3 separate regions of the Homo sapiens genome follow, and regions 1 and 2 are each linked to region 3. Evidence: fine-mapped expression QTL. A gene starts in region 3. Each other region holds a variant in brackets. All regions are shown on one strand. Distances are between the middles of the regions. Region 1 overlaps FBF1 (Fas binding factor 1). Region 2 overlaps ACOX1 (acyl-CoA oxidase 1). Region 3 holds the start of WBP2 (WW domain binding protein 2).

Region 1 (5,326 bases), 57 kb before region 3:
CTTCATTTGGTAACTGTGTTAAGCATCTGCCTGGGGTCAGGCACAGTGAAGCTCTCGCCTTGTGCTGTGTGTGGCTGGGCCCACAGCACAGCATTAAGCCACCCTGTGCTTAGCCTGCTTGGCTGATGGGTGAGGACAGGCAGAGTGCGTAGCTGGCGATTCAGCGGCAGGGATGTTGCTGCTCTTTGGCCCTCCCAAGCTGCTAGCCTTGGTGCTGTTGGAGACCTGAGGGTTGGGAGGGCACCTGCTGGGTCCTTCTCTTGGGCAGAATCGTGCGGGCTGGGCCCTGGCAGTGCCTCCCAGGCACCCCTCATTTTGTGCCTCTTTGGGAAGGACGTGTCAGTGGCATAGTGTGGGAGACACTGGTGGGTTCATGCAGCTTCTCAGGGAGTGGCCAGGCGTGATCCTCAGGGCGGGAACCACGCTCTCAGTCCTGCCCTGGGCCCTACAGGAACGCTGGCGGGTGACTGCCGAGCAGTCCAAGGCGGAGTCCATGCAGCGCGCCCTAGAGGAGCAAAGGAAGGTCACGGCCCAGCAGATGGCCATGGAAAGGGCGGAGCTGGAACGGGCCAAGGTGAGTCAAGCCACCGCACTCAGCCCCTGCCCCTGCCATTATGCCCAGGGACACTCACCCCGTGCCTTCACCCCCACATCCCAGAGCGCCTTGCTGGAGGAGCAGAAGTCTGTCATGCTCAAGTGCGGGGAGGAGCGGCGGCGCCTGGCTGCCGAGTGGGCGGAGTTCTCCGCGCAGCAAAAGCTGAGTAAGGAGCGGGCCGAGCGCGAGGCCGAGCGGGCATTGCAGGTGGACACCCAGCGGGAGGGCACCCTCATCAGCCTGGCCAAGGTAGGGCCCAGAGCCTCCGGACAGTGGAGGGCCCAGGGTTGCCTGCGCCCCTCCATCTGGACACATCCGCTTCCAGTCTTAGGAAAGGAGAGTGTAGCACTAATGTCACAAGAGCATAGGGATTAAAACAGTAATCGCATCATCATGCTAACATCTTCCTCGTATTGTCCCAGGTGCATTATACACATTTTATTTGATCCTCATGTTCCCATGACTTTGGTCATTTAGAAATGAGGAAACCGAACTTCAGAGTTGAGCCTGCCACAGTCACGTGGCTTGTGAGGGCAGCACTCCGGCTTGGCCCCAGGCTTCTCTGGCTCTCCCTGGAAGCCCCTGGCTCCACCACCTCCTCCCAGGGGCAGGGTGGGCAGAGGGGACCCTAGAGTCCTGCACAGAGTGCAGCGCAATTCCTGGGAGGAGAATGCAGCAGGGCCTCCGCTGTCTCCAGGAGCAGGCTGAGCTGAAGATCAGGGCCAGCGAGCTCCGGGCCGAGGAGAAGCAGCTGGCAGCGGAGAGAGCAGCCCTGGAGCAGGAGCGGCAGGAGCTGCGGCTGGAGAAGGAGAGGATCAACGCCACCGCCCTGCGTGTCAAGCTCCGCGCCGAGGAGGTGGAGAGCATGAGCAAGGTGCTGCTCGGGCACATGGGCGTGGGCGCATCTGAGCCCAGGCAGCCCTGACCCAGGCGGCCTCCCTGCAGGTGGCCTCCGAGAAGTACGAGGAGGGGGAGCGGGCATTGCGCGAGGCCCAGCAGGTGCAGGCAGAGCAGCAGGCCCGGTTGCAGGCGGTGCAGCAACAGCAGGAGCGGCTGCGGAAGCAGGAGCAGCACATGCACCAGGCAAGGCTCCCTGAGTGTATGGCGCCCCTGCCCCCGGCACCCCCAGCCTCCCACCTCACAGCTGAGTCCTTCTTTCTGGGGGAACGGGGACAGGAGCATCTGAGTCTGGCCCAGCAGAGGCTGCAACTGGACCGCGCACGACAGGACCTGCCCTCTAGCCTCGTGGGTCTGTTCCCCAGGGCCCAGGGCCCTGCAGCCTCCAGCCAGAGTGGTGAGTGGCTCCAGAAGGAAGGGCCGGCGGCTCAGGACTGGGCAGGGGCAGTGCTAGGAGTGGGCAGGCCCTCCTCCAGCCGCTCCAGTTAAGGCGGCCAGCTGGGTTTTATAGTCGCCTTATTTCTTTTTTACACAAATAATGTGTGTTAATTTTAGATAAATCAGAAATAGAGGAACACTATTATGAAAAATGTCACCTTTTTGTAACTCTGGACTCAGGAAAAAAAAAGGAAATAAAAAAAGTCATTGTCAGGCTGGGCGTGGTGGCTCACGCCTATAATCTCAGCACTTTCGGCAGCCGAGGCAGGCGGATCATCTGAGGTCAGGAGTTCAAGACCAGCCTGGCCAACATAATGAAACCCCGTCTCTGCTAAAAATACAAAATTAGCCGGGTGTGGTGGCAGGTGCCCGTAATCCCAGCTACTCAGGAGGCTGAGGCAGGAGAGTCACTCGAACCCGAGAAGTGGAGGTTGCAGTAAGCCGAGATTGTGCCACTGCACTCCAGCCTAGGGGACAGAGCAAGACTCCGTTTAAAAAAAAAAAAAAAAAAAAAAAGTCACCCTCAACGCCACTCCTGAGTCTTGAGAGAACCACTTTTCACTTTTAACATTTTGGTGCATAATGTTCCACTCTGGTACTTTTTTTTTCTTTTCTTTTTTGAGATGGAGTTTCACTCTTGTCACCCAGGCTGGAGTGCAGTGGCATGATCTCGGCTTAGTGCAACCTCCACCTCCTGAGTTCACGCGATTCTCTTACCTCAGCCTCCCAAGTAGCTGCGATTACAGGCATGTGCTACCATGCCTGGCTAATTCTGTATTTTTAGCAGAGATAGGGTTTTGCCAT[G/A]TTGGCCGGGCTGGTCTTGAACTCCTGACCTCAGGTGATCCACCCGCCTTGGCCTCCCAAAGTGCTGGGATTACAGGCATGAGCCAACGCGCCCAGCCTGGTACATGTTTTTAAAAACAAAATTAGGATTGTATGTGTTTTTCAATAACTTTACTTTTTTTACTCAGTAATGTACACGTGGAACAGGTTTTCAGATCAGTCATTAAACATTTAGTCAATTCCCAATCAGCACAGTTTTCCACTGTGAGGCTGCTCTGTGCTGAGTGATTTGTTGTCTTAAAGAGAAAGACTACCCAGTGGACATCTTCCTACATATGTGTTTGTACCTTTGCCTGATTATTTCACTGGAATAAATTCCTATAAATGGTCTTTCCAGGTAGGAGCAGGTATGCATTTGCCAGAGGCTTCTGAGAGTTAGTGCCATTGCACCCTGAGTATATGGCCAGGGTCCACCCACTGGCGGGGGGAGCAGCTCTGCAGGAACAAGCTGTGACCGCCCGGTATTTCCACCAACACTTTGGTCCCTGACTTCCTCCTTGGCCTTTTCAGCCCTCATGCCTCCTGCTCCCACCACCCGTTGGTGCAGCCAGCCGCCAACTGGCCTGGACCCCAGCCCCTTGCACCTCCATGCCAGGCTGGCACTGCTGAGGCACATGGCAGAGCAGGTGAGTCTCTCCTGGCCTTGGGGATCCTTGTGTTCACGAGTCCTTCCAGCTCAGGGCAGAGGCAGGGAGGAGCACATGGTAGCCCTGGGGAGGGGTGACCCCAGCTCCTGGGGAGTAAAACTGCAGTTTGCTTAGTGAGCCAATGCTCAGACTTCCACACTAGGCCAGGTTCTGTGCAAAGCAATTTGCATATGTCATCTCAGTTAAACCTCATGATAACCTATAGCAATAATGATAACAGGCTGGGCACAGTGGCTCACACCTGTAATCCCAACACTTTGGGAGGTTGAAGCAGGAGGATCACTTGAGCCCAGGAGTTTGAGACCAGCCTGGGCAATATGTTGAGACACCGTCTCTACAAAATGAAAAACTAAAAAAAGAGGACCAGGTGCGTGGCTCACACCTGTAATCCCAGCACTTTGGGAGGCTATGGTGGGAGGATTACTTGAGCCCAGGAGTTCGTGGCCAGCTTGGGCAACATAGTGAGACCTCGTCTCCACAAAAAAATAGCTGAGCGTGGTGGCATACACCTGTACTCCCAGCTACTCCGGAGGCTGAGGTAAGAGGATCACTTAAGCCCGGGAGGTCGAGGCTGCAGTGAGCCACAACGGTGCCACTGCACTCCAGGCAACAGAGCGAGACTCTGTCTCAAAAAAATAAATATTAAAAATTTAAAAATTAGCTGGGCATGGTGGGGCATATCTATAGTCCCAGCTACTTGGGAGGCTGAGGTGGGAGGATTGCTTGAGCCCAGCTGGTCGAGGCTACAGGTGTGTTCACACCACTGCACTTCAGCTTGGGTGACAGAGCAAGGCACTTGTCTCAAACTAAACAAAACAAAACTATAATGATAACAGTTGTCATTATGGAGCATTTCCTGTGTGCCAACCTCAATGCCGAAGGCTTTGTTTATATTTTACTTATTTATTTATATTTAGAAATGGGGTCTCACGATGTTGCCTCGGCTGGTCTCAAAGTCCTGGGCTCAAGTGATCCTACCCCCTTGGCCTGCGGATTAGCTAGGATTACAGGCATGAGCCACTGTGCCTGGCCTGCTTTGTGTATTTTTTAAGCTTTTACCCTCACACAGCCCTGCAAGGAAGGGCTACAAGGAATGTTTACAGACAAGGAAACTGAGGCTTAGAGACATGAAGTCATGTGCTCGTAAGTTCCACAGCAAACAAGTAACCTTGCCAGGATTGAGACTGTGGTCTGTCTCACTCCATACCTGGGCTCTTTCATGGCCCCTGCTGACTCCCAGAGCCAGGCAGAGTCAGGGACGATGTGGGGAGGGGCCTCAGTGACGGCTGGCTCAGCTAGCATCCAGGGCTCCACCTCCCTCTCAGCTCAGGGAAGGTGACCGCCCATCCAAACCTGCCTTGCAGGACCGTGACTTCTTGGAGAATGAACAGTTCTTCCTGGAGACCCTGAAGAAAGGGTCCTACAATTTGACATCTCATTCAGCCTGAGTGGGACCCCAGCCGATTCCCCAACAGAGGGTTCGGACCCCAGAACTGTCCTGTTCCTCCGGCTGCCTCCATGGAGGCAGTGCCTGGGGAGGATTCTGAGATGCTTGAGGCCTGATGACAGCTCTTCCGTGGACAGGGTGCAAGTGCATCCTTTCCAAATGTGCCAGCCCGGGGCAGCCCCTGCCTCTGGGGCTCTGTGGTGTAGGCTATCTTACCATGGCTTTGGCTGCCCTGCCCCAAAGCCATTGGCTTGGATCTGAGGGTCTGAGTTGGCAGCAAGGACCCCCAGCTCTCACTGGGCTCTGTGGGCTCCCCCTGGGCTCTGTGGGCTCCCCCTGCTCCACAGGTAGACTGTTGTGGGCTCTTTTTGCCTGGGCCTCTTCTGAGGCAGGAGCTTTCTTGAGGGATGCCACAAACAGCCTTCCCTACTCCCTGCCAGAGCAGTTCCCTCCCTGATG
Region 2 (5,326 bases), 100 kb before region 3:
ATCAAATACAGAAATGGAACATGCATGACACTTAGATTTTCAACTTAATAGGAAACCATCAGATAGTGTGGGAAATTCAGTGTCTTGGTTATCAACCAGTTGTAGCTCATCTACAGGTGTTTTTTGTTAGATTTTGTTTTTCTCTGAGATATGAGAGTTTAAAGGACTGTGCAGGAAATTTTTCCTTGTGCCTATTTTTTTCCCCATCTCTTAACTGAAGTCAATGTAATTTATCTCCTTAGGAACTCACCTTCGAGGCTTGGAAACCACAGCCACGTATGACCCTGAAACCCAGGAGTTCATTCTCAACAGTCCTACTGTGACCTCCATTAAATGGTGGCCTGGTGGGCGTAAGTGAATTTTTCAGCATTTATTGGATGTTTTGAAGGTTTGTCATGAGATTTTGCTTAGAATGTAGAGCTTTTATGATAATGTCGGCCAGACTTGGTGGTGAAATCCTAACACTTTGGGAGGCTGAGGTGGGCAGATCACTTGAGGTCAGGAATTCAAGACCAGCCTGGTTAATATGCTGAAACCCCATCTCTACTAAAAATACAAAAATTAGCCGGGTGTGGTGGCGCACACCTGTAGTCCCAGCTACTTGGGAGGCTGAGGCAGGAGAATCACTTGAACCCGGGAAGGTTGCAATGAGCCAAGATTGCACCATTGCACTCCAGCCTGGGCATCACAGCAAGACTTTGTCTCAAAAACAACCCAACAAACAAATATATGTGTGTGTGGTGTGTGTACATAGAGGGGTGTGTGTGTGTGTATATAGACAGAGAGAGGTGTGTGTGTGTATATATATATATATATATATATATATATATATATATAGAGAGAGAGAGAGAGAGAGAGAGAGAGAGAGAGAGAGAGAGAGAGAGAGAGAGAGAGAGAGGAAAGCCAGGCATAGCGGCACATACCTATAGACCTATAGTCCTGGCTACTCAGGAGGCTGAGGTGGGAGGACCACTTGAGCCCAAGAGTTCAAGCCTGCAGTGAGCTACTATCTGTGATCATGCCACTGCACTCCAGCCTGGGTGACAGAGTGAAACCCTGTCTCTTAAAAAAAAAAAAGAAAAAAATTTAAATAGTTTTAACACAAACTTTTTTTTTTTTTTGAGATGGAGTCTCACTGTGTCACCCAGGTTGGAGTACAGTGGTGTGATCTCCGCTCACTGCAACCTCCACCTTCTGGGTTCAAGCGATTCTCCTGCCTCAGCCTCCTGAGTAGCTGGGACTACAGGAGCGTGCCACCACACCCAACTAATTTTTGTATTTTTAGTAGAGATGGGATTTCATCATGTTGGCCAGGCTGGTCTCAAACTCCTGACCTCTGGTCTGCCCGCCTCGGCCTCCCAAAGTGCTGGAATTACAGGCGCGAGCCACCGTGCCCGGCTGACCCGAAACTTTTATATCTTCTTATTCCATTCTGAGTTATTATCTTGGAATATATATTTCCAATACAGTTAGTGGTTGAAGGATTTTGTTATTCACATTATATATTTTATTTATTTATAATTTATATGTAAGAAGCCACATGTAGCTAGTGATTACTGTTTTGGACAGCACTGCCTTAAGGGATAACAAGGAAGTAGTTTAAATTAATATTCTTATTTTTATCCTAAAATTTTCTCTACGTAAATGTATGAGAAATAAGTAGAAAAGAAAGTAATAACTATTAGCTTAAGGGAATTTCTTTCTGAAAGCTAGGTGTGATGCTGTCAGCAGAAAGGCTTTCTGGACACATACTATTGGTTTAGTCTAGTGTTAGATTTAACATATTCTTTCTTCTTTTTTCTACCCTTTAAAAATGTATGAACGTTTGCCCACCCCTCCCTTGTTCTCTTTGATATTACAGTTGGAAAGACTTCAAATCATGCAATAGTTCTTGCCCAGCTCATCACTAAGGGGAAATGCTATGGATTACATGCCTTTATCGTACCTATTCGTGAAATCGGGACCCATAAGCCTTTGCCAGGTAAGAACTGTTCATCTGATGTTGAGATGAAAATGAAACTGAGCACTTTCTTCTGCAAAAGGTAGAATGCCCAACTGAAGAGGCGGAGCAAAAGCCAGAAATTCCAGAGCATAAACATCTCGTGACTGTCCTTTCATCTGTGGTAGGAATTACCGTTGGTGACATCGGCCCCAAATTTGGTTATGATGAGATAGACAATGGCTACCTCAAAATGGACAACCATCGTATTCCCAGAGAAAACATGCTGATGAAGTATGCCCAGGTATGTTTTGATAGAAAATAAAGCAGAGGCATCAAACAGTGGAGTTGAGTGGCTGTTACTCACAATAGGGTTAGAATGGTCTGTTCTTTTAGAAGGTAATAACAGCAGGGCACACTGGCATATTCCTGTTATCCCAGCACTTTGGGAGGCTGAGTGCGTGGATGACTTGAGCCCAGGAGCTCAAGATCAGTCTGGGCAACATAGTGAGAACCCATCTCTACAAAAAGTAAAAAAATCTAGCTGGGTATGGTGGCACACGTGTGTAGTCCCAGCTACTTGGGAGACTGGGGTGGGAGGATCACTTGAGCCTGGGAGGCCGAGGCTACAGTGAGCTGTGATTATGCCACCGTACTCCAGCCTAGATGACAGTGAGACCTTGTCTCAAAAAAAAAAAGGAGGCTGGGCGCAGTGGCTCACACCTGTAATTCCAGCACTTTTGGGAGGCTGAGGCGGGAAGATCATGAGGTCAAGAGATGGAGACCATCCTGGCCAACATGGTGAAACCCCATCTCTACTAAAAATACCAAAAAATTAGCTGGGCGTGGTGGTGCGCACCTGTAGTCCCAGCTACTCAGGAGGCTGAGGCAGGAGAATAGCTTGAACCCGGGAGGCGGAGGTTGCAGTGAGCAGAGATCATGACACTGCACTCCAGCTTGGCAACAGAGTGAGACTCCGTCTCATAAAAGGAGGGAATAAGGCTGGGCGCGGTGGCTCATGCCTGTAGTCCCAGCACTTTGGGAGGCCAAGGAGGATGGATCATAAGGTCAGGAATTCAAGACCAGCCTGACCAATATGGTGAAAACCTGTCTCTACTAAAAATACAAAGATTAGCC[G/A]GGTGTGATGGCACACGCCTGTAATCTCAGCTACTCAGGAGGCTGAGGCAGGAGAATCGCTTGAACCCAGGAGGCAGAGGTTGCAGTAAGTCGAGATCACACCACTGCACTCCAGCCTAGGCAATACAGCGAGACTCTGTCTCAAAAAAAAAAAAAAAAAAAAAGGAGCTAATAATGCATTTTTCCTTCTGATGCCCCTTTTTTTTTTTTTTGAGAGAGAGAGTCTCTGTCACCCATGCTGGAGTGCAGTGGCGTGATCTTGGCTCACTGCAACCTCCGCCTCCTGGGTTCAAGCGATTCTCCTGCCTCAGCCTCCCAAGTAGCTGGGATTACAGGCATGCGCCACCACACCCAGCTAATTGTTTTGTATTTTTAGTAGAGGTGGGGTTTCACCCTGTTGGCCAGGCTGGTCTCAAACTCCTGACCTCAGGGGACCCTCTTGCCTCGGCCTCCCAAAGTGCTAGGATTACAGGCATGAGCCACCGCACCCAGCATTTTTTGGTTTTTTTTTTTTTTTGAGACAGAGTCTTGCTCTGTCACCCAGGCTGGAGTGCAGTGGCGCAATCTCAGCTCACTGAAACCTCCGCCTCCCAGGTTCAAGCGATTCTCCTGTCTCAGCTCCTGAGTAGCTGGGATTACAGGCACGTGCCACCACACGCAGCTAATTTTTGTATTTTTAGTAGAGATGGGGTTTCACCATGTTGGTCAGGCTGGTCTCGAATTCCTGACCTCTTGATCTGTCTGCCTTGGCCTCCCAAAGTGCTGGGATTACAGGCGTGAGCCATCACGCCCACTCTGATGCTTCTTTTACTGCGACAGTGAAATCAGAAACAGTTGTCAGGGTTGAAGGACATATTTTGATTTGCTAAACCAATGATTCTCAAACTTTTGCATGCGTTAGAATCACCTGGAAGGCCAGTTAAAGCCCAGGTTGCTAGGCCCTACCCTGGAGTTTCTGATTCAGTTGGTCAGGGTGGGGACTAAGATGTAGTATTTCATGCAAGTTGCCAGGTGATGCTGATGCTGCTATTCCAGGGACCACACTTTGAGAACCACTGAACTGCCTCTTGGGCTTAAAAGAAGGAAGTATCAGTTCCACGTTCTTCTTCCAGGTGAAGCCTGATGGCACATACGTGAAACCGCTGAGTAACAAGCTGACTTACGGGACCATGGTGTTTGTCAGGTCCTTCCTTGTGGGAGAAGCTGCTCGGGCTCTGTCTAAGGCGTGCACCATTGCCATCCGATACAGCGCTGTGAGGCACCAGTCTGAAATCAAGCCAGGGTAAGGATAGGGTCCTAGATGGGCTCAGTACCAAAGGCCTAGTTTTTACCCCATTCAGATCCCAGAATTCCCAAATGTCAATACAGAAGATGCATTAGCACTGCAAAATTGGCTAGGGTGATAACTGGGCCTGTAATTTCATATCTAGGCTTCCTTTTCTTAAGAGGAAAGACAGAAATAACCACCCTTGCTATAATCAGTGACTGCCAAAAAAGAAAAAAAGAGAATACCCACCTTATTATTTTTAACTTTTTAAGAAAAATAGTAATAATATTACTTGAACTTTATAAGTGAAATGTTCAACACACTAAAGGCAGTTTGAAAGTTCTGATTACTACTAGCAACTGTAAATTGTGCATGGTGAAAGTGACATTAAATTTGTTTCCCTTTTGCATTCATAGCCACAGTTTATTCCTACAACTGCCTTTCACTGATACTCCCTGATACTCTTTTTACTCCTAAGGAATAAAGAAACTGGCCAGGTGTGGTAGCTGACACCTGTAATCCCAGCACTTTGGGAGGCTAAGGCAAGAAGATTACTTGAGCCTAGGAGTTTGAGGCCAACTTGAGCAACATAGTGAGACCCTGTCTCTATTTTCTTTTCTTTTTTTTTTTTTTTTGAGATGGATTCTCACTCTGTTGCCCAGACTGGAGTGCAGTGGCGCGATCTCAGCTTGCTGCAGTCTCTGCCACCCTGGGTTCAAGTGATTCTCCTGTCTCAGCCTCCTGAGTAGCTGGGATTACAGGTGCACGCCACCATGCCCAGCTAATTTTTGTATTTTTAGTAGAGACGGAATTTCGCCATGTTGGCCAGGCTGGTCTATTTTCAAAAAAATTAAAAGTTAATTAAATTTTAAGGCCAGGCGCAGTGGCTCACGCCTGTAATCTCAGCACTTTGGGAGGCCAAAGCGGGTGGATCACTTGAAGTCAGGAGTTCAAGACCAGCCTGGCCAACATGGAGAAACCCC
Region 3 (5,326 bases):
GGTGGGCAGGTTGTCCCCATCTTCCCATTTATGGTCCTTAGAGCAGCCAATGCTGCCTGCTCTTTGCTGGGGGGATTTTCCTTTTTTTCTTTTTCTTTTCTTTGAGACAGAATCTTCCTTTGTTGCCCAGGCTGGAGTGCACTGGGACGATCTTGGCTCACTGAAACCTTCGCCTCTCAGGTTCAAACAATTCTCATGTCTCAGCCTCCCTATTAGCTGGGATTACAGGAACCACGCCACCATGCACAACTAATTTTTGTATTTTTGCGTTTTTTTTTTTTTTTTTGGGATGGAGTTTTGCTCTTGTTGCCCAAGCTGGAGTGCAATGGCGTGATCTCGGCTCACTGCAACCTCCACCTCCCAGGTTCAAGGGATTCTCCTGCCGCAGCCTCCCGAGTAGTTGGGATTACAGGCGCGCGGATTACAGGCGCTTACAGGCGCACAACACCACACCCGGCTAGTTTTTGGTATTTTTTAGTAGAAACGGGGTTTCTCCATGTTAGCCAGCTGGTCTTGAACTCCTGACCTCAGGTAATCCGCCGACCTTGGCCTCCCAAAGTGCTGGGATTACAGGTGTGAGCCACCGCGCCCGGCCTAATTTTTGTATTTTTATAGAGATGGGATTTTGCCATGTAGTCCAGGCTGGTCTCAAACTCCTGGCCTCAAGTGATCCACCCACCTTGGCCTCCCAAAGTGCTGGGATTACAGGCACGGCACCAGGCCTGGATTTTGCTTTTCTTTTTCTTTTTTCTGAGATGGAGTCTTGCTCTGTCGCCTAGGCTGGAATGCAGTGGCATGATCTTGGCTCACTGTAACATCTGCCTCCCAGGTTCAAGCGATTCTCCTGCCTCAGCCTCCCGAGTAGCTGGGATTACAGGTGCCCGCCACCATGCCCGGCTAATTTTTGTATTTTTAGTAGAGATGGAGTTTCACCATGTTGGCCAGGCTGGTCTTGAACTCCTGACCTCAGGTGATCCACCTGCCTTGGCCTCCCAAAGTGCTGGAATTTGGCTCACGCCTTTGGCGTGAGCCACAAACCCCGGCCTGCTTTTCTTTTTTAAATTTACATATTATTTATTTATTTTTATTTTATTTTATTTTGAGATGGAGTCTCACTCTGTCACCCAGGCTGGAGTGCAGTGGCGCAATCTCAGATCACTGCAAGCTCTGCCTCCCGGGTTCACGCCATTCTCCTGCCTCAGCCTCCCAAGTAGCTGGGACTACAGCCGCCCGCCACCACGTCCGGCTAATTTTTTTTTTTTTTTTGTATTTTTAATAAGGGGTTTCACTCTGTTAGCCAGGATGGTCTCGATCTCCTGACCTCGTGATCCGCCCGCCTCGGCCTCCCAGAGTGCTGGGATTACAGGCGTGAGCCACGCGCCCGGCCTAAATTTATATTTTAAACGCACATAGGAAAAAAAAATTAAACAGTACCAAAGAGTACAATGCATACTGACATACCGAGTCACCAATCCACCCCAAATTCCTAGACCCATGTCTCAAAAATGCCACAGACATTTTCTGATGGATCTTTGCAAAAATTTTCTATCTAGATCCTATTTTTTATACAAATACAACTATATGTATACAGCATTCTGTGCTTAATAACCCTTGATGATCTTCCCATATCAGCACATAGTCTGACTTAATTCTTTTTAAAGACTGCAGAGATTGCAGGCGCCAAAATACATCTAACCATTGGGGCAGATTTCATTATGACTATCCTTAACCCACTGTACTTGTCCCGCAAGGTCCAACCTGGTATTGCACAGGACCTCACAGAACGCTGCTGTTTCCTGATCTTTTCTAGTGAGGCAGCTTTGTTTCTTCACATAGGAGACCTCCCTGGAAAGCGAAGTCAAGCAGGTGGATCTAGAGGTTGGCCACCACAGTCAGGAAAGCAGCTGTCTACTGAAAAGCAAACTCTAATTCCTTAACATTAACGAGTACCGGAACTACCACGTGGGAAGTGCAGCCCCCTCTCTCCGCCTCACGGATTCAGCTCGGAGGTGCAGGGGTTTGGTGGGGGGCGGTTAGGGAATGACAGCTGCCCCGTGGAGGACGCCCAGGGCTGGGTCACGAGCTGACAGGAGTCAGCCTTATTCTGTAAATCCTAGTTATCAGGATGCCGGTTTCGCGCCGTGCCCAGTCCCACTCAGCCTTCAGTCTTCCGGCCGGGACCCCGCTGGGCGCTAAGGGGGGAGCGGCGCCACCGCGAGGCCGGAGAGGGGGCTGCGAGGGGCGCCCGGCCGGCCTGCGAACGTGGTGGGAGCCAGGCGGGGCACACGGCCTCCCCTTCCCATGAGGGACTCTCCCCGCCCCCCGGGCTCAGCGCTGGGAGTGGTGAGATGGATGGCGGGGTGATCCGACGCCGCCAGCCCACCGCGTCCCCAAGAGCCGGGGCCTCCGGCTCAGCTAAACGCCCCAGAGTCACGCATGCGCCCCATAAACGTCTGCTGAGTGAACGAAAGCTCCCCATCCACAAGGGGACAGCTCGGCGCTCCCACGCCATGTCCAGGTCGCATTCGACCAGCAGGACTTCCCTTAACGCGCTGCCGGAGTCCCCAAGATCGCGCCCCTGCCAGGAGCGGAACTGTTTATTTCCGTCCGGCTGAAGAGGCGGGGTGGGGATGGCACAAGCCGATTGGTTACGCAAAATGTGGAACCAATTCAGGCCTATGATCCAGGAGACTACAAGTTCCAGAATGCATCCTTCCTCCAGCATAGGGACAGGCCGAGGCTGCGGGGGCGTTGCCTGCTGGGAATTGTAGTCTTCATCTTGTTTGTTGCGCAGGAGGAACTGGAAGGAGGGAGTAAACTATTACCACGTGACGTTCGGGTCAGGTGTTTGGGCCAGCCTCCGCACTCGAGCTTTGATTGGCTGACTCTAATAAGAAGACGCCACTAGGGGCGGGGCGAAGAGGGGCGCAAGCTCATTGCGTTTTGAGTCTCGGGACCCCTGTTGGAGAGACTATGGCGCTCAACAAGAATCACTCGGAGGGCGGCGGAGTGATCGTCAATAACACCGAGAGGTGAAAACACTGCGGAAGGATCCTGGAGGACCAAAGTTCGGGTGTCGAGGAAGTGGGCGGTGGGTGGTGGGTGGTGGGGAATAAGCCCCTGAAGAGGGAGCACTGATGGAGTGAGGTTGGTGGGGAACGGCTGGGGGCGGGGTTGGAGGAAGGTGGGTGGGCCGTGGGGGAGAGCCCGGGAGGTTGTGATCAGCTGGGAGGCGGGGGTGGGACGTCTGCATGGGGACCTGGTATGGGGCCCCCGGTGGGGCCTAGGGGTGATTCTTGAACCCCTTCCCAGACTTGTGATTTCAGTAGCTGGGAGGAGCCCCAAACAAAAATAATTGTCACTTATTGGATGTCTACAACGTTACTACGTGTCAGGCTCTGCGCCTTTTCTACCTTATTTAATAAATTCTGTGCAGTATAATCTACTACTGTCCACATTTCACAGGTAGGGAAAGTGGAGGGCAGAAAGGTTAAGTAACTTGCCCGAGATCGCAACTGTGTAAGTAACAGAGGTGGTAATTCCAGGAAAGGAGTCTTGACTCCAAAGTTAATAGGATTAACCACCAGCATACAGGCTTCCAGTATGTTCCAGAACTGTTCAGGTTCCCGGTAAAAAACTGAGGTCCCAGAGGTGAAATTAAACAGATGACGTTTGTCAGGTGTCTAACAGTTCCTGGCACTGTGTGGGTCCGTAGTCATTCCCTTGCCTCTCTCTTGAATGCCTGTTGGTTTGGGTCACCTCGGAAGGCAGAGCTCTCCTAATTCAAGGTTCTTTCCACTCCATCCTCCCCACCCCTTGCTCATTGCATCCTGTCTCTCCTCCAGTCTCTGCCAAGAGAAGCCTTAAATGGCCTCTGTCTCCTTTTGTTCCTTGGGTATTGAAAATCAGACCAGCCAGCCCTGGGTTGAACTATGCCGACCCTGAATTGCCTCTTGAAGGCAGAAGGAGCTTAGGAGGCACCTGAGTCCCCAAAGGAGACATCGTGGAGTCAGAGCCCTGTACCCAGCTAAGGCCAGCATCCAGCTGCCCTGTGACTTGGGAATGTTTGATGAGTCAGAGGAAAATGCCTAGAGTGACCCAGCATGCTCACTTTCCCTCTATCTTACCCGCTCAGAGTTTCATGGGCCCAGCCTGTTGCTGGTAATTCCTTCTTTTCTCTGAGCAGTACTTCTCTTCTCTTTTTTTTTTTTTTTTTTTTTTTTTTTTAGATGGAGGCTTGCTCTGTCGCCCAGGCTGGAGTGCAGTGGCACGATCTCAGCTCACTGCAACCTCCGCCTCCTGGGTTCAAGCGATTATCCTGCCTCAGCCTCCCCAGTAGTTGGCATTACAGGCACCCGCCACTACACCCAGCTAATTTTTTGTATTTTTAGTAGACATAGGGTTTCACCATGTTGGGCAGGCTGGTCTCGAACTCCTGACCTCGTGATCCACCCTCCTCGGCCTCCCAAAGTATTGGGATTACAGGAGTGAGCCACCGCGCCCAGCCATTTTCCTTTGCTTATACCAGTTGTTTCCCACTTACCCTTCCCCAGTCAGAGAAAGTTGTGATATATGGGGGGAGGCAGAAGACAAACAGAACCGTGTGAACCTTTTTATCATGTAATCAGAGACACCTCACACTGTTTTGTTGCATCTCTGTGTGTGAGTCAGTTCCCAGGCCTGGCCAGCTTTTCGTGCCATTTGGCAACATCTCTGGGGACTGTTTTTCTTTCTGTCTCTGTGGAACTTTCTGAGACAAGAATGTATCTATCCTGCTCGGCCTTCTACCTGGCTTAGGGCTCAGTCCTGCTAAGTAAGGTGTGCCTTCAGCCTGCTGTTTTAGAAAGTGCTTCAGCCTGCTGTCTGAAAAAGTTGTATCTATAACAATTGAAGTGTTAAGTCCAGTGTCCAAAATTTGATAATTAGGCTGGGCATGGTGGCTCACGCCTGTAATCCCAGCACTTTGGGAGGCTGAGGTGGGTGGATCACTTGAGGTCAGGAGTTTGAAACCCGCCTGACCAACATGGTAAAACCTCGTCTCTACTAAACACAAAAAATTAGCCAGGCGTGGTGGCGCATGCCTGTAATCCCAGCTACTTGGAAGGCTGAGACAGGAGAATCGCTTGAACGCAGGAGGTGGAGGTTGCAGTGAGCTGAGATCACGCTATGTTGCACTGCAGCCTGGGCAACAAGAGTGAAACTCCGTCTCAAAAAAATAAAAAATTATAATTAAAATAGTGAACGTTACTCTTCAAGTCGTGAACTCCTTTGACAATGATGAAAGCTGTGGACTCTCCTCCCAGAAAAATGCACATATGACATACGT

The links. PIP is the estimated chance that this variant, and not a neighbour inherited with it, causes the effect.
Region 1: its variant is the best candidate, but not a certain one, in a credible set for the expression of WBP2 in whole blood (TOPMed, PIP 0.86).
Region 2: its variant is the best candidate, but not a certain one, in a credible set for the expression of WBP2 in whole blood (TOPMed, PIP 0.78).

Annotation. Positions count from the first base shown.
Region 1 is chr17:75,910,265-75,915,590 of GRCh38, reverse strand. It overlaps FBF1 (Fas binding factor 1), which reads left to right. Exons shown (of 30, transcript NM_001319193.2): 24 at 452-574; 25 at 659-844; 26 at 1,293-1,469; 27 at 1,541-1,678; 28 at 1,772-1,889; 29 at 3,284-3,399; 30 at 4,785-5,326. The coding sequence ends at 4,868. Among named protein-coding and RNA genes, the nearest start is that of MRPL38, 8.0 kb to the right of the region's middle. RefSeq lists an enhancer at 369-663 and a silencer at 4,568-4,728. The variant G/A (reference allele first, on the strand shown) is at 2,735.
Region 2 is chr17:75,952,483-75,957,808 of GRCh38, reverse strand. ACOX1 (acyl-CoA oxidase 1) reads left to right here. Exons shown (of 14, transcript NM_004035.7): 4 at 243-350; 5 at 1,862-1,981; 6 at 2,128-2,243; 7 at 4,189-4,358. Among named protein-coding and RNA genes, the nearest start is that of FBF1, 14 kb to the right of the region's middle. The variant G/A (reference allele first, on the strand shown) is at 3,077.
Region 3 is chr17:75,852,945-75,858,270 of GRCh38, reverse strand. WBP2 (WW domain binding protein 2) reads left to right here and starts at 2,936. Exons shown (of 8, transcript NM_012478.4): 1 at 2,936-3,032. The coding sequence starts at 2,974. RefSeq lists enhancers at 1,317-2,112, 2,721-2,850 and a silencer at 2,181-2,350.